3 linked regions of the Homo sapiens genome follow. The protein of the gene in region 3 purifies or fractionates together with the protein of the main gene of each other region. This does not show direct contact. Each region holds a gene or a part of one and is shown on either strand. Other genes may lie near its edges.

The links.
Region 1: the proteins of ISOC2 (region 3) and TGFBRAP1 purify together in Homo sapiens (co-immunoprecipitation; 3 studies listed by BioGRID and IntAct, with this or other methods). This does not show direct contact.
Region 2: the proteins of ISOC2 (region 3) and INPP5A purify together in Homo sapiens (affinity purification with mass spectrometry; 2 studies listed by BioGRID and IntAct, with this or other methods). This does not show direct contact.

The regions. Positions count from the first base shown.
Region 1 is NC_000002.12:105,326,736-105,334,231, reverse strand, and holds the start of TGFBRAP1 (transforming growth factor-beta receptor-associated protein 1), read left to right. Parts: upstream 1-4,496; 5' UTR 4,497-4,607; intron 4,608-7,496. UniProt on the Homo sapiens protein: Plays a role in the TGF-beta/activin signaling pathway. It associates with inactive heteromeric TGF-beta and activin receptor complexes, mainly through the type II receptor, and is released upon activation of signaling.
Region 2 is NC_000010.11:132,778,787-132,783,980, forward strand, and holds the end of INPP5A (inositol polyphosphate-5-phosphatase A), read left to right. Parts: intron 1-2,062; coding exon 2,063-2,131; intron 2,132-3,074; coding exon 3,075-3,155; 3' UTR 3,156-3,162; intron 3,163-3,250; 3' UTR 3,251-4,694; downstream 4,695-5,194. UniProt on the Homo sapiens protein: Phosphatase that specifically hydrolyzes the 5-phosphate of inositol 1,4,5-trisphosphate to inositol 1,4-bisphosphate, and inositol 1,3,4,5-tetrasphosphate to inositol 1,3,4-trisphosphate. Plays a crucial role in the survival of cerebellar Purkinje cells.
Region 3 is NC_000019.10:55,458,570-55,466,016, reverse strand, and holds the start of ISOC2 (isochorismatase domain-containing protein 2), read left to right. Parts: upstream 1-4,374; 5' UTR 4,375-4,505; intron 4,506-7,447. Other genes in the region: uncharacterized protein C19orf85, read left to right, coding at 1,463-1,635, 2,050-2,545.

The sequences.
Region 1 (7,496 bases), on a different chromosome or scaffold from region 3:
CTGTGGGGAACCAACAAACACTGCAATGCCTGGCATTGTCACCTCACTAGATTGTGAGTTCCTCTGGGACAGGGTCCGTACATTTTCTTAGAATCCCTCACTTAGCCATTAGCCTGCACAGTGCTTGTACTTAGTAAGTGCTCAGTAAATGTTTGTGGAATGAATGCATGATGAACAAAATATATACTGAGGACTCTTGGTGTTGATTCTTGTTGATAATGTAATAGTTAAGATATGTTATAAATATGTTATAAATATTGTATCAAAATATTGTATCAAAAATATACTTGAACAGGCTGGGCGTGGTGGCTCACACTTGTAATCCCAGCCCTTTAGGAGGCTGAGGTGGGTGGATCACTTGAGGTCAGGAGTTCGAGACCAGACTGGCCAACATGGTAAAACCCCATCTCCACTAAAAAAAAACAAAAGTTAACTGGGCATGGTTGTGGGTGACTGTAATCCCAGCTACTCAGGAGGCTGAGGCAGGAGAATCGCTTGAACCCGGGAGGTAGAGGTTGCAGTGAACCAAGATCGCACCACTGCACTCTAGGGGACAGAGCAAGACGCCTCAAAAAAAAAAATGTATATATATAGTATATACATACACATGAGCATAAAGGAGCTTCAATGTGAAGGTAATAATTTAAGCAACATTTCACATTTTGGACCTGTGTTGTTAGCTATTTAGAACAGTTAAACTACTAGCTTGCTTTTAAATCCATTGTCTTAGTCATTTCAAGTTGTTATAACAAAATACCATACACTGAGTAGTTTATAAACAACAGAATGCATTTCTCTCAATTCTGGAGGCTGGGAAGTCCAAGATCAAGGTGCTGGCAGATTGTGTGTAGTGAAGATCCATTCATCAGAGATGGCACCTTCTCGTTGTGTCCTCACATGGTGGATGGGGCAACAGGCTCTCTTAGGCTTCTTTTATAAGGGCAATAATTCATGAAGTTTCCACACTTATGATAGAATTACCTCCTAGAGGCCCCACTTCCAAATACCATCACCTTGAGGGTTAGGTTTCAACATACAAATTTTGGAGGTACACATTCAGATGATGACAGCACTCATAGGTTACCTTTCATCTTTGGGTTCTCAGTGCCTGCTACAACAGCACAAGAACAGTAAGTGTGTGCTGAATGAATACAGATGAATGAACCTTTCCCCATCCTCAGATACTTCCCAACTGAGCTCCACTATCACCAAACTTCTAGAGCACATTATTTTTTGCCTTATGATCTCGTTAGGTGGGTTTTTCTTGCACATACCACACTAATCCAGTGGTCCTCAAAATTGTGTGCCCATTAGAATCCTCTGGAGGGGTTGTAAAAATAGTTTGCTGGGTCCTAACCCCAGAGTTTCTGATTTAGGAGGTTTGGGATGGGGACACCAAAATTTGCATTTCTAACAAGTCCAGAGGTGATGTTGATACTGCTGGCTACCAACTCTACCTTATAAACCATTGCCCATTAAACTCTTGAGGGTAGAGACTGTCTTCCTCATTTCAGTATCTGCTGAAGCCTCTGGCATAGTACCTGGCACATAGGAGCTGCTAAAGAAGTAGTTGATTGAACAATAGTTCAAAAAAGTTTATTTTACTGAAGCTAGATTACAAGTATATGAATGTGTGTGTATATGTGATTAAATGAGCTATTACATGTAAAAGCTCTTAAAACATGGCACATAGTAAGCTGTTGCTTTAAAAAAAATAAAAAATGTAACCTTTCTTTGCTTATATTCTAAAATGACACCAACCATCCTACATGTGTGCTCTTAAATAGCTTATATATTAGAATAATGGAATCTTAGTACTAAAGGCTGGATGTGGTTGCTCATGCCTGTAATCCCAGCACCTTGGGAAGCCGAGGTGGGTGGATCACTTGAGGTCAGGAGTTCAAGACCAACCTGTTCAATATGGTAAAACCCTGTCTCTACTAAAAATACAAAAATTAGCCCTGCGTGGTGGTGCATGCCTGTAGTCGCAGATACTTAGGAGGCTGAGGCAGGAGAATTGCTTGAACCTGGGAGGTAGAGGTTGCAGTGAGCTGAGAAGATTGTACCACTGCACTCCAGCCTGGGCAAAAGAGACTGTCTAAAAAAAAAAAAAAAAAGTAATCTAGTTAATATTTCAATATTGAGCATCAAGAATTTTTAAAAATTGGTTGAGTGTTTTCTACATGCAGAAAGATACAGCAGAGAGCATAGACACAATCCTTGCCCTCCCAAGCGTATACCCAGCGAGAAAGTGAGAAGCACAGAGTATGTGTAAGCATAAAAATACTAAGTTTTGAGAGTAGACAGCAACTATGAAAATATTCAGTTATATCGATGCAACTCAGTCTTCATTAATTGTTCTCATCGGAGCACATCTTTTTCACATTCTGTAAAGTAACGCTCGGTATGGGCCCAAGGAATATTTAATAAATATTTAAAAATGAAGTTAATAATTGTTTTGAAAGCCATATGGTTGATATTTCTTCTTAAATGTAACCAATAGAAACAACATAAGGAATTTGGCCTGTGCATATATTTGCACATTTATGGTACAGGCATTTACATGGAGGTGCCTGTCATTTGTGACACAGACTTCTCATCAAGTTTCAGAAGGAACAGATGTTTCTAGATGGAATAATATGGAGCTTGCCATTGTAAGAATCCTGTAATAAATCCTTTCATAAAATAAATATATCTGAATTATCTCTTGTTATACATTTTCACTCCTGGATCATCTAAAGTAGAACACAAAGATTGTTCATAAACTATTCATTCAAAACAACTTTATATAAAAAGAATTACTGTTGCTGAATTCTGGATTCTTATTGTTGCTCTTTCTTACTAGCATGGGGTTTGGGACAAGTCACCTTTTTAAATTTTTTTATTTATATTTTCCTAAGTGAATTAACACAGGAAGTCATTCACCTTTCTTTGCCTCAAAGAATTAAATTTATTCTTTGACGCTATTAAGTAAATTAATAGCGTCTACTTCATTGCTCAGTCACTAGCAGTTTCTGAAGTCACTGTCTGGCAGTCAGTAGATATCACCTCTGTAACTAGTCTTGTGCAGCTCTCTGTGATGTGATCTGGTAGAGGACTAAGATACAAAAGCACAAGGGTGAATTCTAGGACCACCTGAGCCAGTGATTAGTTGATGACAAGTCACATAGTCTCTGTGAGCCTGGGTAAAATGAAGAGACTGGATTTGCTCTTGTACCTTCCCAATCCCTGGCTCCACTAGCTGTTGGCCACCTTAGACTTGAAGGTCCATTCACTGCTGCTTGCCCTTGAAGCTCAATTGCTGGTCAGAGCTTTACACTCCTGGGAAGCCAGTCCCCTACCTGGAGGCTGAGCCGGTGACACTGGTTCCACTGGGTCACAGCTGAAGCACCACTGGGGATGGGGCATTTATGTGGCCATGAGTCACACTAGGGTAGGGGTAGAGGGCAAGTCACAGGAAGATTGTTGGGTTTTTTTTTTTTTTTTTTTTTTTTGGCCAGTTTCTTTTCTTTCTTTTTTTATCCCTTTGAAACAGAAGACCATGGCGTACAATCTGGTATCTGCCTTCAGGGTTGGGATAATATCTTTGTTTTACAATACTCAGAGTGGCTGGAAGAAAGCTGAGGCCACAGGTCACTAGCAGGTTCTAAAGTCTGAAAATCCCTGGGAAAATTTGACTTTTTATATGCTAATAATTGAGTACTGACAACTCTGGAGGGAGCTTTCCAATTCTTCCGTCATGAAAGTGGACTTTGTATACTAAAGAGGGGTTCATGGATTCATGGTAACCTACAATTCTTCCTTGCGGCCTGAACCAAAGGAATAGCAGCTACAGTTGGGTTTTCCTAAAAGGAGTAAGATAGTCCCAGGCCTCCCTTCTCAAATAAGTGTATCAAGCAGGTGGACTCTGCCAGTCGGGGGTCCCGGTCAATCCCTAGGGCCCTGGGGCGCCATGGGCCTCGTGGGAGGGCTGCGCATCCCAACCATGCCTTCGTCTCCTGGTGGGGCACCGGCGGTACGTCCGATCCTCCAGCCCGCGTGGTCAGGCGGCCGCGGGCCCAAGCATTTCCCAGGGCCCAAGCATTTCATTCATTTATTCATTCACGCAGCAGGTATTTCCCGGGCGCCCTCCTCCTGTGTAGGTGACAGAAACTGGGTGGCGAGCGAGCCAGGCAAAGCCCGGCTTCCCTGAAGCTCCCCGCAGCGGCGGGGGCGGAGAAGAGACCTCAGCCCCGCGGGCTCGCACAGCTGGCGCGGACCACGCTCTCGCCCGGGGCCGGCGGCCTCAGCGCCCCCCGAATGAACACCTTCCGCCCGCTGGCCGCCCCGCGAGGCGGGCCGTGTCGTGGCCCCGGTGCACGGAGGGGGACGCCGAGGCCCGGAGCAGGGCCCGTCTCGGCCTGTGCTCGGAGCCAGGCGGCAGGGCCCGCGGGCCGGCGGGCGGCGCGGAGACGGCTGCGCTCCCGCCCTCCGCCAGCGCCTGGCGGCCGCCCCACGTGACGGGAAGCGGCGGCTGCGGGGTCGGGCCAGCCCAGGAGCCGCGGGCCGGAGCGGGGCGGCGGGGCCCCAGGCCGCGGGGCGGCGCGGGACGGCGGGCGCCGGCGCCGGTGAGTGAGGAGGGCGGCGGGGCGCGGGGTGCGGGGCTCAGGGCGCGGGGCGCGTGGGGCAGGAGGGCGGGGAGCAGGAGTGGGGGGTAGGCGGCGGGGCGGGGTGGAGGGCGAGCCCGTGCGTGTGCGCTGGGGCAGGTGTAGTGGGGGCTGGAACGCGGGGTGGGGGGAGCAAGTGGCTATACACTTGGGGGCAGGTGTGCGGGTGTGCGACTTGGTAGCTGTCCCTTGTGGGGGCCGGCTAGCCTGCTGGGGTGAGCAAATAAGTGTTCACGTGTGTGTGGGATGAAGTGTGCACGGGTGTGGGGTCAAGTGTGTATGTTGTGTGTGAGGAGTGCGTGTGTGTTTAGGGCAAGGGAAGACCTGAGAGACCTCGTCCTTGATTTGGGTTTTCCGGGGAGAAGGGCCAGGAAGGACTTGCACCTCCATCCCTGGTATGGAATGGTTTTGGCGCTGTGATTGAGGTTTCTGGGAGCTCTTTGGATTTGAGAGCTCAAATTCGGGTCACACTCAGGCCTGAATTGTCCTGATCTGGAGAGTAGGCAGGGGTGTGTTGGGGAGTAGGGAAAAGTGCTGTGCTGGGCTTCCTGGCCCCTGTTTTTAGCACCAGGTCAAGGGCTGGAAGCTGTCATCCCTGTGGAATTGTTTTCTTTCCATTGCCTTCTGGAGGTGCAGGTGCAAGTTAGTCCGCCTGCCTCCCTGTGTTAAGTGTTGATATCCTTAAACACGGAAGCTGTCCGGTTGTCTGCACCTGCCGTGGCTTCTACCCAAGGACTGTTGAGTGACCCTCAGGAAGCCTCCTACCTGGCTGCTAAAAATGGGGGCTCACAGATCACACAGCAGGCCTTACTGCACGTGGACTGCACGCGCAGCTGTGGTCAAAACATGTCTGAGCAGAGTTTAATCACTGATGAAGTGCTCATGGGCAAGCACCTTGTCTATCAGGAAGGAAGGCAGCTGCGGGTGTGATTGTGGTGGCAAGTTAAGGCACTGAGAAGGTGTGCAGGGAAGATCCTACTGCGTTGTGTGTGTTGGCTTGGTTGGAGTCAGGATGAACGAATGTAGAGGGACTGTGTGGTGGCTGCTACTCTCTCATGGTGGACATGCTTCTCTCTGTTGGTCAGCCGGAAGCTGGCAGACAACTGAGAGCTCGCAGTTCCATGGTCAGTCAGAAGGAACATTTGGTCAGCTGCTTCCTTTTCTTTTTCCTTCCATTTCTGCCAGCCGAGCAGCCTCAACAGTCATTGCAGCTGCTTCTGTGATGTGTAGCAAAACGCTGCCTGGAGTACTAGAAAGTCTACTGGCTGGAATCTGCTGGAACCTGTCCATAACTAGCCTGCCCCAGGTCATCTATGAAATGGGAGTGATGCTCTGTGGTGGTAATGAATGTGGAGTGTGGGTTCAAATCCTGCCTCTGCCATTTCCTGTGACCTTTGGGCAATTTGCTGGACATTCTGAGTCTCAAATTCCTCCATCAAAATAGGGATAATATTAGAAAAGGCACATGAATTCTAATAAGAAATTGTGCCTGGAAAGGATCCGGCACAGGGTCTGGCATTTAGTAGGTGCTCAATAAATTATTGCTGACAAATATAAATGAGGATGTAGAGCCAGGTCTCCCTCAGCTCTGAAAATATGTAGTTTTATGTTTTGAGTAATTGTTAACCTAACAAATGATTTACTCTGGAGTTAGACTTGTGGGTTCTGAATTCCAATTTGCTATGTGCATCAAGGTTTGCATTACACAATTGAATTGGGTGAGAGGTGAGGTGCCACTGTTAGCCTTCATTCACTCTGCCTTTTCTTCTACACTCATGATTGTGCATGGCAGTCCTCTTGTCATAGCATTGGAGGCAGAGCGTTTTCACCACTGCAGGAATCCCAGGACCAATCTAACCTCAGCTTAAACCCTCCAGAGACAGGGATTTGTAAAGGGCCCATTCTTCATTTAGGCAGCTCCAGTTGAGGAGTTTTAAAAGCATAGAGCTCACTATTTTAAAAATGCTATATTTTCTTTTTGTTGTTGTCTTCTGGGTGGTTTTTTTGCTGTTGTTTTTGAGACAGGGTCTTGCTCTGTCACCCAGGCTGGAGTGCAGTGGTGTGACCATGGCTCACTGCAGTCTTGATCTCCCAGACTCAAGGGATCCTCCCACCTCAGCCTCTCAAGTAGCTGGGACCACAGGCTCGCACTACCACACCCAGATAATTTAAAAAATTTTTTTTGTAGAGATAGGGGTCTCCCTGTGTTGCCCAGGCTGTTCTCAAACTCCTGGCCTCAAGCAATCCTCCTGTCTTGGCCTCCCAAAGTGCTGGGATTACAGACCTGAGCCGCTGCGCCCAGCCAAAAAACTTGCTGTATTTTCTGGGTCTGATATGCAGCTAACATTTCTGTTAGGAAAAAAAAAATGAAGTTATTTGGCTTATTCCTTCATGCTAATATTACAAATTTGTGATCTTTTAAGAAAACTTGAAGAAATTTTACTTAATGGGTTAAGTGTCTTCATCTTGGTCTGAATCCAGCCCTCATTAGAAATACATTAAAGTAGTCATTTGTGGCAGCCAGGTGTTTGGATACTGCCGAATAATTTGGCTCAGACTTTACAACTCATCTCTGTAGCAAACCTGACTCGTTTTTCTTTATTTAAAAAAATAAATACCTACTAAATGAATGTAGAGTAACAACTTAATTTGGTGCTACCCCAAATGACTTTAAGTGCCTCATGAAAAGTGAATTATGAAATCTTGCAGATGATTTGAAATCAAGATCTTTTCTTGATAGTCAAGTAACTGCTGTTGAAAAAGTTAAAGATTTAAGGAAAAAATCACATATTTAAAGATGACAACTGACTGGATATTATGGACTATCAAGTCCTGTAGGTACTCAATAAT
Region 2 (5,194 bases), on a different chromosome or scaffold from region 3:
GAGGCTCCAGTTGTCCCTCACTGCCCATCTGTGTCTGTGCCAGACGGCACCAGACCCCAGGCACAGCAAACACCTGGGTACAGGTGTGCCCTCAGCAGGGCGGGGACCTCTGCAGCCCTGGTCCCTGAGATGCACCCTGCTGGCCTCTGCCATGTGGCTCTGTCTGCCGGGCCGGGTTCCTTACTGTTCCTTCCTACATCCTGGAGCACCCTGGGTGCAGCCTGCCCTCCGTCCCTGGCTGTGCTGTGAGGAGCCTGCCTGGTGGGGGCCTGGGCTGGAGGCGGGGCCCCTTGGCCAGAAGTCCCTGGGGTCTGCAGCCAGCCTGGCTCCTCCGCAGCCCCACCTCTGGCCTGTGGGCAGGGCCTGTGCCCATCATTGAGGAAAGTGTGCTGGCCACAAGCCCAAAAGCCCAGGAGTGGGCTCGGCCTGGAGCCTGGCTGTGGACCTGCCACTGCCCCTCTGGCTGGGCTCACTGGTAGGCACGCCAGTCCCTCGGTGCCACATGGTGGGTGCTCCCATCTGCCAGTGCTGAGAGCGGGTCAGGCATGTGGAGCCCAGGGCTGCCACCAGCGGGGCAGGAGCCTCCCGGGGACTCGGGCACAGATGCCATCCCCTGGGAAAACGTCGGAGGTCACGCGAGTGCAGATTGGTGAGCAGCGCCCAAGGGCAGAAGGCTGGCAGGGCTGTGGCCTCCCCACATTGTGCTGCCGCTGCCAGGGCTCCACCAGCTCAGAGCAGGGCAGCGTTGCAGCCCGTTTTCCATTCACTCACAGCCTCTCGGGTTCTCTGGATCCGGGACTTGACACTTTATGCTCAGGGTGGGGGACAGAGCCTCACAACACACACCTGGCGGCCTTTGACAGCCCCTGCCTTCTGGGGCTGGAGTTTGGACAGGCTCTCCCCATGGGGCCACCCAGTGGGCAGCGGGTGTGCAGGACAAGCAGACGGGCGCCGGGCGCGCTCCGCAGCCTCATCCATCATGACACGCGCCGTCACCTCGTCACCAAGCTCCGTTCTGCCTCCGGAGCCCTAAAACACCAAAAGGGGCTCGGGACGCGGGCGGTGCTGCTTGGGGAGCCTCGGTGACAAGTGTTCAGTGAGGTGTGCCGCACGCTGCCTGTGCCCGCCGTAATTTGTTTATCTGTCCAAAGATTATGCAGTTGAAAATCCACAATTTTATGCTGCCTTTGTAAATTACCACGCTGCGTTTGATGAATGTTTCTCCACTTCTGCGGAGGCGCCGCTTCACCCGCGAGAGGCGGGAAGGTGCTCATGCATGCGGTGCCGAAGCTTGTTTTCTCATTCTTTCTGGCAGGCGCCCATGCTGGAAAGTAAATCTGACCTTGAGCTTCCCACTGCATTAAAGATAACTCAGTTTTACCTGGATAGTCTCAGATGCTCCAGCTGTGGATATAAAATTCCAGCCCAACCAGAGCCGAGTGCTGACCAGCAGCAAACCCCTTCCGGAGGCGCCCGGAATACAGGCACCTGCTGGGAAGTGCGCACACAGCCGTGAATTACTGTGCACAGATTGCTTTGTGTAGTGGTGTGGAATTCGGTGTCTGTTCTCGTTTGAACACTGAGTTCTAGGTTAATAGAACAGTCAAAAACAAATCAAAGTGGGAAGATTGGAACTAGATGGGCTGCCGCACTCAGAGGAGCACACCTGCACAGAAAGCTGGGGCGCACACACTCCTGTGAACAGGGTCCCCTGCAACTCCCCTGAGAGCCCAGGAGCATGTCCGGGAGAGGGGAGCTTGGGAGCCGGGCCAGCACCCGCGGCTCCCCACGCGACCCCTCCTAGAGGCAGATACCTGTTGTCCAAAAGGGCCAGGGTCAAGGTGCTGAGGCGCTGCCACATCACCAGAGCCTTTGGTCCATGAGCTGGCCTCTCTCTCAGGGGCCAGGCAGGGCGGGTGGCAGAGGCTGGGGAGGTACTGGCAGGGGCCGACATCCCCATCTCTCTGCCCCCACAAAACCCTGATGTTCCTGCCAGTCAGCTCCCAACTGGACCCAGGGTGCCCCACCTCCCCACACTCACCTGTCTGTTTCCCCTTTCCAGTCGGAGAGCGAGGAGAAGGTTGTCACCTATGACCACATTGGGCCCAACGTCTGCATGGGAGACCACAAGGTGACATAGACTGAGGTCCAGGGGCCAGGCTGGGGGACCAAGGGGAAGCTAGGGGGCCGGGGGGCTGGGGCCAGTGGGTGGGCGGGTGCTGGGGCTGGCAGGCAGGTGGGCGGGGGTTGGCCAGTCTCTCCTCTCCTGTTCTCCTGTCTTCTTAGTCTGACTACAGAGTAGGCCAAGTTGGTCTGTTTTTATTTAATTTTAATAAAATATCATAAGCTAGGTGGGTAAGTAGGAAGAAGGCAGAAATGACGTTACAATAGAATAAAATACATAATTTAATATTTGTAAAAAAATGTCCACAGCTGATTGTTTCTGAAGGCTGTTTTGCAAATATGCAGCTTCAGTGTTTTAATGGCCTTCTTGGGGCAGGCTCACTGTCAGCCGAGGAGCCGGGGTGAGGGCGCTCCCCACCGTGTGCCAAGGGGCAGCACTGGCACAGATCGTTTATTCAGGCAACTGCACCTCGAGAGTGTGCACAGGAGACAGATCAAATCTCATTTTCAGCCAATAAATGAGTTAGCTTCTTCCACGTTGGAGGCCCAGAGCTGTGAGCCCCAAACACACCCGGATAAGACGCTGGACCTGCCAGGTGCGGCAGAGCCGAGGACGGGAGAGCCTTCCTTCCCCGCTTCATTTGGGGCCTATTTAGCCATTCTTTTACATCAGTTTTTCCATTAATTTTTTTACCTGGAAATAACACCTTCCTTGCAAAACCTCTCATGGCCGGCCTGGCTCCAGTTCCACATTCACGGGGCCCCCAACCCCTGCGCTGCCGTGGCTGTGCACAAGGGCCGAGCTGCCTCTGCTGGCCATCAGCTCCTCCCAGCCCGGTTCATGGCTGCCCTGGTGAGACGCAGGGTCTGGGGGTGCAACGGGAGGCGGCGGCATGTGCTGTGCTGTCCCGCGTGCGCCGTGCTGACACCGTCCTCTCTTCCTGCTGCAGCCCGTGTTCCTGGCCTTCCGAATCATGCCCGGGGCAGGTAAACCTCATGCCCATGTGCACAAGTGTTGTGTCGTGCAGTGACGTGGTGGTAAATATGACTCCTCCCTCCAGTTCAGCTTTTACGCAGCTTTTCCTGGTGCGTTTGTTCCTTTAACAAATTACGAATTCCGTGACAGGGAAGAGATGCCAGCGCCACGAGAGGACACTTCGTGAGCCTCCCTGTAGCCGTGGACCGAATACGCACTCTTGAAAGCTGCATCGAGAACCCGCCCAAGCGCCACCTGCTAGACGGCCAGCCCCACACTTCGCTTCAGCCTCCGGACCATTCCGGAGCAGCCTCACATACCTCACTGTCTCGTCTGTCTATGTGACATTAAGTAGAAATATTGGTTTTTTTTTTTTTTTTTTAAATAAGTCACAGTCCTGTTGTCAAAACTCTAATAGACAGCAAAGAGGGTCTGTACCGTAGACTTCACAGTTTTCAGTTTTTAATGATTGCCAGTGGAGGGGCTTCTTCAGCACAGAGACCCCCCACTGTGTCCAGGGACCCCCTCTGCCAGGTGGAGGTGTGTCCAGGGGCTGGGGAAGCCGAGACGGGCACTCCCTCTGCCGGCCGGCAGCGTGGCCCTGAGCATGGCAAGGGGGTCTGTCTCTGCCGATGCTCCTTCCGCGGCACTGACTCTGCGCCGTGTCACATGGTTTTTGAATCACACTGCAGCTGCTTTCCATTTTTATATATATATAAATATATATAAATATATACTTTTTAAAAATAATTTATAAATCTTACCAAAACTTATGCTAAATATACTTTCCAGTATGAACGCACAGGAGAGTCCCATCAGCAGGCGGCATTGGAGTCTAGGAGCTCAGCTGTGTGTCCATCAACACACAAATTCGTAAAAAACACACATGGCCTCGCCATCGTGGGTAAAATCGGCCCCACAGCACGTCTGCACCAGCGGGCCGTTACTCCCATGCCGTTCTTCTGTGTAATATTAAGAACTGAATGTGAAGTTTATAGCTAGCCTGGGTGTACCTTTTAAGAATTTTGTAAACCGTTTGTCTGTCTTTTGTTACTGTTTTATGGTGCCAAGTATCCTACGTTACAACAATAATATCATGGGAGAAATAGAAATAGCCTAGTTTGCTTCCAATAGAAACTGCTTTTAACATGGGCTGTATATAAAAATATTAAAGAGAAACAAAACTGTACATTTCCTCATTGCTCCGCTACAGACAACCCATGTCATAACCTTGTTGCAAATATTTTTCTCCTATAGCAGTAAGTACAGCATTAGAAGGTGATTAGAGAGTCTGTTGATGAAACACAAATGTATGTTTTATTGATTTTACTTTAGAACACTACAGAGTTCCTGGACCGGGTGAAGGCATTAGCTGGGTGTTTGTGTGGGATAAATACTACCACTGCAAGTGACTGCTGTCCGCTGCGGAATCTGTTCTTGGTGGAAGCACAGGTCCGTGTCGCTGCTGTGGTTGCCGCTGTCCGCGGTTCAACACGGAGTCCGCCCCGCGGGTTTCAGCTGTTGGTCGTTCTGAGGGGCCTTTGGAAGTGACCGGTCTGGTTCCTAAGCAATAAAATTGACCGTGGTGAAAATAGTCCCGTGTTGCTTTTTCTTCCTTTCCCTTCTCCTGCCACCTTTGAAATGCTAACTCAGGGGAGCGGCCTCCTGTATAGCCTGTTATTTGAGATCAAGCTCATTAGAAATCCTGGAATTTCACTGTATCACACGCTGTCACAAAACACTAAGCCGTTCATTGAGAGGAGAAACACAGCCTTTTGGACTTTCTACTGTAATAAAGGATTTATCCCTCAACATTTTAAAACGGGATTATATCAACGCTTTGCCTTCCTCAAAACTTTAAGAAGCCCCTCTGCTCTGAGCTGAGAGGGGCTCCCCACAGAAAAGCGTTGCTTCTGCCCTTCGAGTTGCTTCCTTGTAAAGAAGGCTGCTAAGAGCCTAAAACAAAACGCGCCGAGTTTAAGCCCTTTCTATTTCCCTTTAACGCTTCCGCAAATGCCAAGAGAAATCGTACCACCGCAGTGATATCATTATTTACATTTAATTTTTAAAAATTAAAACTCAACAGCCACGCCC
Region 3 (7,447 bases):
TGGCAGGCAGAGGGACCAAGGGGCAGAGTACAAGAGGCTGTCTAGGAGGCTGGAGACCCTTGGAGACACCCGAGAGAAACATGGGAGGCCAATGGTGTCCCCAACACAGACACCAGCCACACCAGGCCCAGCAGCCCCACCTGTGCAGTGGTTCAGCACAGTGGTAGTGTTGAGCATGGCAGGGGTAGCAGTCAACGTGTACGTGCCATGGCTGGTGAGGGCACTGGGTGTCTGTCTGTCCTACTGCAGCTGGTCTCACCATGTCCTGCTGACAGGAAACTGGACCTCTGGCAACATCACTGGCTGCACTCAGCCCCAGCTCCCAATATGCCCCCACCTGCCTGCTGGCCCCCACCCTAGGCCTGGTAGGACCTCAACTGCTGACCTTGCCCATAGTGCTGCTGGCCAGTGAGCGGGCCTGGGAAGCAAACTCATGATGTCAGGTTTAAATCCCTGCTTCAGGCAGGAGAATCAGCGCGTGCGGTTCTAGGTACTGAGCCGTGGTCATTTGTTACATCAATTTCGGGAAACATCCTGGCTTCCCAGAGCAGACCCCCGAGGGTGGGGGTCCAAGCAGAGACTGAGGCTGTCACACCCGGTGCTCCCCTACCCAACCTGAGACCCAGGGTCCCCGCTCCGGCCAACACCCTTCCAGAAACAAGGGGACCCGGCCCAACCTCTGCCTCCCACAGACACCAGGGGTCCCAGTGCCTCAATAAAACACCCTGGGGGAGACTGCGCCCTGTTCTCCCGTCCCCTCCCGTCCTGCCACACCCTTCCCCCTCTCCTCCCTCACTCTGCTGCTCAGGATTCTATGAGCCCCAGGATTTCGGGGGTGACCCTCCAGGAGCCAACCCCTCCTGCTGGCTGGAGACCTCGGCCCGCACCAGCCCCTTTGGGAGCCTCGGTTTCCCCTCCTAAGGTGCTGGGCTGAGCAGAGGGAGGGAGGCACAGGTGTGTCTGAGGGTGGGTGGGCAGATGCAGCCCAGCTCCCCTCCCTCCCAGCCCCCTCCCCACGGCTCCAATTAAGGGTCCTCCACGCTCAATCGCTGCATTTGACTTACTGGCGGCCTCGCCTCCCGAACGAGGCCTTTGTTCCCTTAATTGGCCATCTCCAGGCACCATTCTCTGCCCCCCGCCGACGCACGCCAGGTCCATATCCCAGGTCCAACTATGCGCTAATTGGGCACTTAGAGGGCCCCAGAAAGCCCCCTCCCCTCCCTGTTCCCTGCCTTCCTATATTAGCCCCCACCTGCCGCTCCCTCAGACTTCAGGTCGGGCTCCTGGGAGGTGGGGACAGGGTTAGGGCACAGTGGGGAGGCCTTGGCCCAATTCCCAGCCCTGCCTCCTCCCCAGCCCGGGGTGCCTGGGCCTCCAGAGTCCCCTGCCCCTCCCTGCTCACAGATTTGGGGGGTGCTTTGGTCAGCAATATTGTGGGGAGTTACTCCAGACCACCCTGGCCATGCACCCCGGGGTCCCCGAAGGCCCTGGGGTCTCCGAGCCCGGCCCCCGGGAGCTGTGTGCCTTTGTGAGCGGGGCGGCCGCCCACATGCTGCGGGCCCTGCAGCCCCGGCGCACCCGGCCCCCCAAGAGGCGGCCCAACCACAGAAGGTTTCTGCACAACCAGATCTGCAGGTGAGGGGGCTGGTGGGGAAGGTGGGCACGGGACGGGGAAGAGGGGAAGGAGCAACCAGCACCCTTGGCTGGGGGAGACCAGGTACAGACAGAGAGGAGCAGCCCCCAGGGCTGGATGCCAGCAACAGTCAACGTGCATTTATTGAGTGCCTACTGTGTGCCAGGCCAGTTAGCAAAGCAGATAAAGTTCCTTGCTGTCGTGGAGGTTGTGTTTTCATGGGGGTGGCGGACGGTCAGGAATCACCAAAATAAATAACTAGCACGGTGTGATGCGACCACATAGGTGACCCTTGCAAATATGCTGGCCGGGGGTGGTGGCTCAAGCCTGCAATCCCAGCACCTTGAAAGGCCGAGGCAGGAGGATCGCTTGAGTTCAGGCGTTAGAGACCAGCCTGCTCACATCTGTCTTTACAGGCAGTTCACCAAGATTGAGGCTGCCACCCAGCGCCTGGCCCTCTCCATCCTGTCCCAGGAGGCACCTCCCCAGAGACCCTCGCTCCAAAAGCCACCCCCACCGCCTCCATCCCCCTTCCTGGGAGTGGCCTGTGCTGTGGCCCCCACTGAGGCTCCCCATGCCAGCGCCAGCCTGAGTCTCGCTGCCCTGGACACCTCTACCCTCGACCTCTTTGACAACATTGCGCTCACCCCAGAGTGTGCCTCAATGCCATGGGACCCCTCCTCTGGTTCTGATGCTCCCCTGCCAGCGCCGGGTCTGTCCCATCGCGACCTGGGCCAGCTGGACCTGAGGCAGGTCCCACATTTCTGCGGCCCCCTGCCCCTTCCCCAGCATGCCCTGGGGGAAGAGGCTGATCTCGTGGCTCCCGACTGGGGTTGGGTGGACTGCTGGGAGGTGCCTCGTGCCTGGGATTCTCAGGGGATCCCCGAGGGTTGGGGGACCAGCTCCCCATGAGGCCAATCACAACCCAGCCCAGAACCCAGGACAAGCCAGAGGCCCCTCCACGACGGCTCTACAGCCCTCTCCAGGAGCCCCCAACCTGTCCACTCCCTTCCTGGCAGCCCCTGGGAAAATAAACCAACCCAGACCCCCACTTCAGACCACTGCCTCAGGGGTCTCCTCCTGGGCCCAGGGGCCCCACCTCCACCTCTTCTTGCTTTCCTGCCTTCCCCCTTCCTTCTGCCTAGCCCCATCTGGGCATCCACCCCTCACTCTCACCCAGGCTCACCTCTGCCTAATGTCTGCTCTCCTGTCATTTATTCCCAAAGATGTATCGAGCGCCTACTATGGGCCAGGCCCAGGTCTAGGACTTGAGGATTCAGCTGTGAACGAGGCAGACGGGACCCCTGCCTCAGGGAGCTCCCTGTTCTGTGTGCATGTGTGTGTTTTGGCGGGGAACAGACAATAAAAGAGTATATCCATGCATTTTTCAAAAAGCAAGATTCATTTCCAATTCAGATTGGAGTTAGTGCTGAAAAGAAAATAAAACACAAGGCCGGGTGCGGCGGCTCACACCTGTAATCGCAGCACTCTGGGAGGCCAAGGCAGGCGGATCACTTGAGCCCAGGAGTTCAAAACCAGCCTGGGCAACAGAGTGAGACCTCCATCTTTACAAAAAAATTAAAAAATTAGTCAGGTGTGGTGGCGCATACCTGTGGTCCCAGCTACTCAGGAGGCTGAGGTGGGAGGATCGCTTGAGCCCGGGAGGTTGAGGCTGCAGCAAGCTGTGATCGTACCATGGTACTCCAGCCTGGGTGATAGAGCAATTTTTTTCTTTTTTTTGATGTTTCAAAAAAATTAAAAACAGCGACCTGATGGAAGGGCTACCTGACACCAGGTGGTCAGGAAAGGCTTTGAAAGCCTGGAAGGTTGGGCCATGGGGAGTCCTAGGATTCCAGGCTGAGGCAGCACACGTGCAAAGGCCCTGCGGTGGGACATTGAGGGAAGAGCAAGAGGAGACCCCTGTGGCTGGAGCGGAGTGAGCAGGGGGAGTGGTGAGAGGCGAGGTCTGCACGGACCAGGAAGGCCGACCATGAATTGGGAGGAGTTTGGATTTATTCCAAGACAGATAGGAAATTCTCTCTTTCTCTCAACCTCCATTTCCAAGCACAGAGTCTAAATTATTCTAAACACCACCCGAGGAGGCAGGTGCTGTACAGATGGGGAAACTGAGGCAGCACAGAGCGCAAAGGACAGGGGGGCGTCAAATTCCTCACTTGATCGCTCCCTCAGCCAGCCCCTTCCTGGAAAGTGCTTGGGTATCTTTGTAAGCCTCCGTTTCTTGAGAGAGGGCCAGGTTTCGAACCGCAGACATGCCTCTACTCTAGGTAAGACCCCTCTCTCTCTCTCCCGGCCTCGGCGGTCTGCTCTGTGCAATGGGGCCGGCCGAGACGCCCTCTCTCCAGCCAGAGTCTGAGCCTTCGGAGACCACCGCGCGACTCCGCCCCGTCGGCCGCCACTCACGCCCTCTACGGCTCTCCATTGGCAGAACGACCTGCTGCCCCGCCCCCACGGCGCCTTTGCGAGCTAATCATTTTCTTGAGACTGACAGCCTTGCCGGCACCGCCCCCCCTGGGGCGGGAGCAAAGCAGCTGCATATGCGGATTGGTTGAGAGGCAGGGGGCGGGGTGAGTTGGTGAGCGCCGATTGCGGGCAGAGGCAGTGGCACATGCGGATTGGCCGGAGAGAGCGGCGAGGCAGAGCATGATGAGTGTCGATTGGACGGCTGGGCCCAAGTGGGCGGAAAACGGACGGTGCAGGGGGTGGGCCACGTGTCCAGCCCTAACGAAACGGTAACCAGCCCTGGGAAGCCCGCAAGAGGCCTCAGCGGTGGCCGTCCGAGAGCCGAGAGGTGAGGGTGCCCCCGCCTCACCTGCAGAGGGGCCGTTCCGGGCTCGAACCCGGCACCTTCCGGGTAAGTCCTCTCTCGCTGCTGGCGCTATTTGGAGACCGACCTTACCGCCTAGCAGATGGGGAAACTGAGGCTCTGCCTGGGCGTCCCGGGCCAAGGTCACAGGACCAGAAGGAGGACTCCACCTGGCCCCGCCAGAATTGGCTGGCCAGAGATTGGAAGCGTCCCCGGGTCGCGCCTGCCGCCTCTGTAACAGCGCTGGGGGGTGGGCAGGTTTAATCCCCATTTCTCCGACGAGAAAACTGAGGCTAAGACAAAGAGAAACTTGCCCAAGGTCACACAGCCAGGAAGTCCGGGCTCCAAGGCCGGGTTTCCGAGACCGGGTGGGGAAATCAACGGCCCTACCCCGCCCCCTGTTGCCGCCCACCTCCAGCCACGCCCCCTTTGGCCTTGGGTACCCTCCACCCAGGCTGAATCTCTCCTCGTTCCGCAGGACACGCCCAACCCTCTCCAGCCCAGACCTCCCCTTCACATCTCTCTCTCTCACACACCCACCCTCACCCCAATTTTTCATCTCCCAAAAACCAGTTCCCCTCCCCGGGATCCCCTATGAATCTTCAGATCATGCCCCTCGCTCGACCAGAAACTGGGGGCCTTTCTCCCCGACTTTCCCCACCGTCCCAGCTGCCCCTTCCTGACTCTCCCCTGTCCCACTGGGCCCCAGCGCCGACCTCCTGCTCTCTGGCCTTTTGCCTCCAGTTCAACCGCACGGCGGGGGCCTGAAGCCATCTTTGTATTTTGCATTTTGAACACTTTTTCTGGAATAATACCACAAACGCAGAAAATCGAACGGTTTGCAAATACACAGCTTAAATAAATATTTATAAAGGGAGCACCCTGGTGTAAACAAGTATCCAAAGAAAAAAGTCAAACATGCGCCACATCCCAGGATCTCCCGCCGTCGTCGTTTCCATCACTGTGGTCCAAGGGCAGTCACTGTCCTGGCTTCTGACGCCATAGATCAGTTTTGCCGGGTTTTGGCTTTATGCCAACCCTTTATTGTATATAGTATTGACTAGACAACTTGTTGCACATTGTCCAGAATTCAGAAGAAACAGAATAGGACCCAGTGAAAAGGCTCCTACAGACTTCCCCGGTGCCTGGTTCACCCGCCTGAGTCTCCCGTTTCTTGCTTGTTTGCCAGAGATAGCAGATATAGATATAGGCAACACAGACACATTTTCCTCTCCCTTTTTTCTTTGGCACAAAAAGGAGCATTCCATACACACTGTTCTGCTTCTTTTTCACTTCTCTCAAACATGTTTTCGTATTGTTACTTAAAGAGCTTCCTCGTAATTTTTTCTGGCTGCGAGGAATAACAGAGTATAGTTATGGCATGACTTACGTAACCAGTACCCTCATTGTGGACATTGATACTTAACTTCTGCTCCTTTGCTCTGGGGAAGAGTCCTGTAATGAATAATCCTGTGTCGTTTCACATGAATGTCTGTAGGATAAATGCTTAGGAGCAGCTTTTGAGGTCAGAGGGTTTGTGTATCCATCATTTTGAGAAATGCAGCTGCTCGGCTGTCCCTAGGAGTTGTTGTGACCCACACTCCTACCAGGCCAGAGGGGAGTTCCTGGGTGCTCCACATGCCTGTCCTAGGCTTTTGGACATGCTGGCCCCCAGATCTGCCCCTCCATGGCTCCTCACTGCCCTCAGCAGAGAGACTCCAGGGCCCTTGTGACCCACCTGTCAGCTCTCCAGCTCCTGGTTCCCTCAGAACCATCCCTTGGGGCCCGGGTGTCCAGGTCCCGCCTCCTGCACAGGGGAGGAAGAGTTAGCACATGAGTGGCCGTGAGAGGGTCACTCCATGGGGAGGAAACCGCAAGGGCTGTTTGAGAGGAGGGAGTGGCTGGGCTGAGGCTGGAGGGTCTTCAGAGCAGTGCGGGGCGGGGGGGAAAGGGGCGCCTGCATCTTAGTCCTGAGGACAGAGAGAATCCACGGGGGTCAGGGGACAGTTTGAGACAGGGGAGTAATAGCTTTGTGTTTTGTGAAAAGATCATTTTTCTGTCGTCAGTTTCTCTAGGAGAACACTGCAGCCCCTGCCAAGCTGTATCTGACTCCCTCCAAATCCCACTTATCACAGTTGTAATTATGGGATTAATTCACTGTGGTTTTGTTTCAGAGGGAGTTTCCATTCAATTTTATTTAATGAGATAAAATTTGCACAACATAAAATTGACCATTTTAACCATTTATTCGTTTTTAAACTTGAGATATGGTGCACATAGAAAACATTTGCTATGGTAGATGGATTATGTTCAAAGAATAATAGGCCAGGCGCGGTGGCTCACGCTTGTAATCCCAGCATGTTGCAAGGCTGAGGCGGGAGGTTCGCTTGAACCCAGGAGTTCGAGACCAGCCTGGGCAACATAGGAAGACCCTGTCTCTAAAAATATAAAAATACAAAAATTAGCCAGGTGTGGTGGCATACACCTGTAGCTCTAGCTACTTGGGAGGCTGAGGTGGGATGATCACTTGAGCCCAGGAGGTTAAGGATGCAGTGAGCTATGATTGCGCCACTGTACTCCAACCTGGGTGACACTATGAGACCCTGTCTCAAAAAGAAAAAATAGTACAGGGAGGCCAAGGCAGGAGGGTTGCTTGAGGCCAGGACGAGAGAGAGAAAGAAAGACAAGGAACAACAGTGTCCTAACTACCCAGCTTTGAAAATAGCAGCTCAAGGCCAGGTGCGGTGGCTCACACCTGTAATCACCAGCACTTTGGGAGACTGAGGCGGGTGGATCACGAGGTCAGGAGTTCAAGACCAGCCTGGCCAACATGGTGAAACCCCATCTCTACTAAAAATACAAAAATTAGCCAGGCATGGTGGCACAAGCCTGTAATCCCAGCTACTTGGGAGACTGAGGCAGGAGAATCCTTGAACCTGGGAGGCAGAGCTTGCAGTGAGCCAAGATCGCGCCACTACACTCCAGCCTGG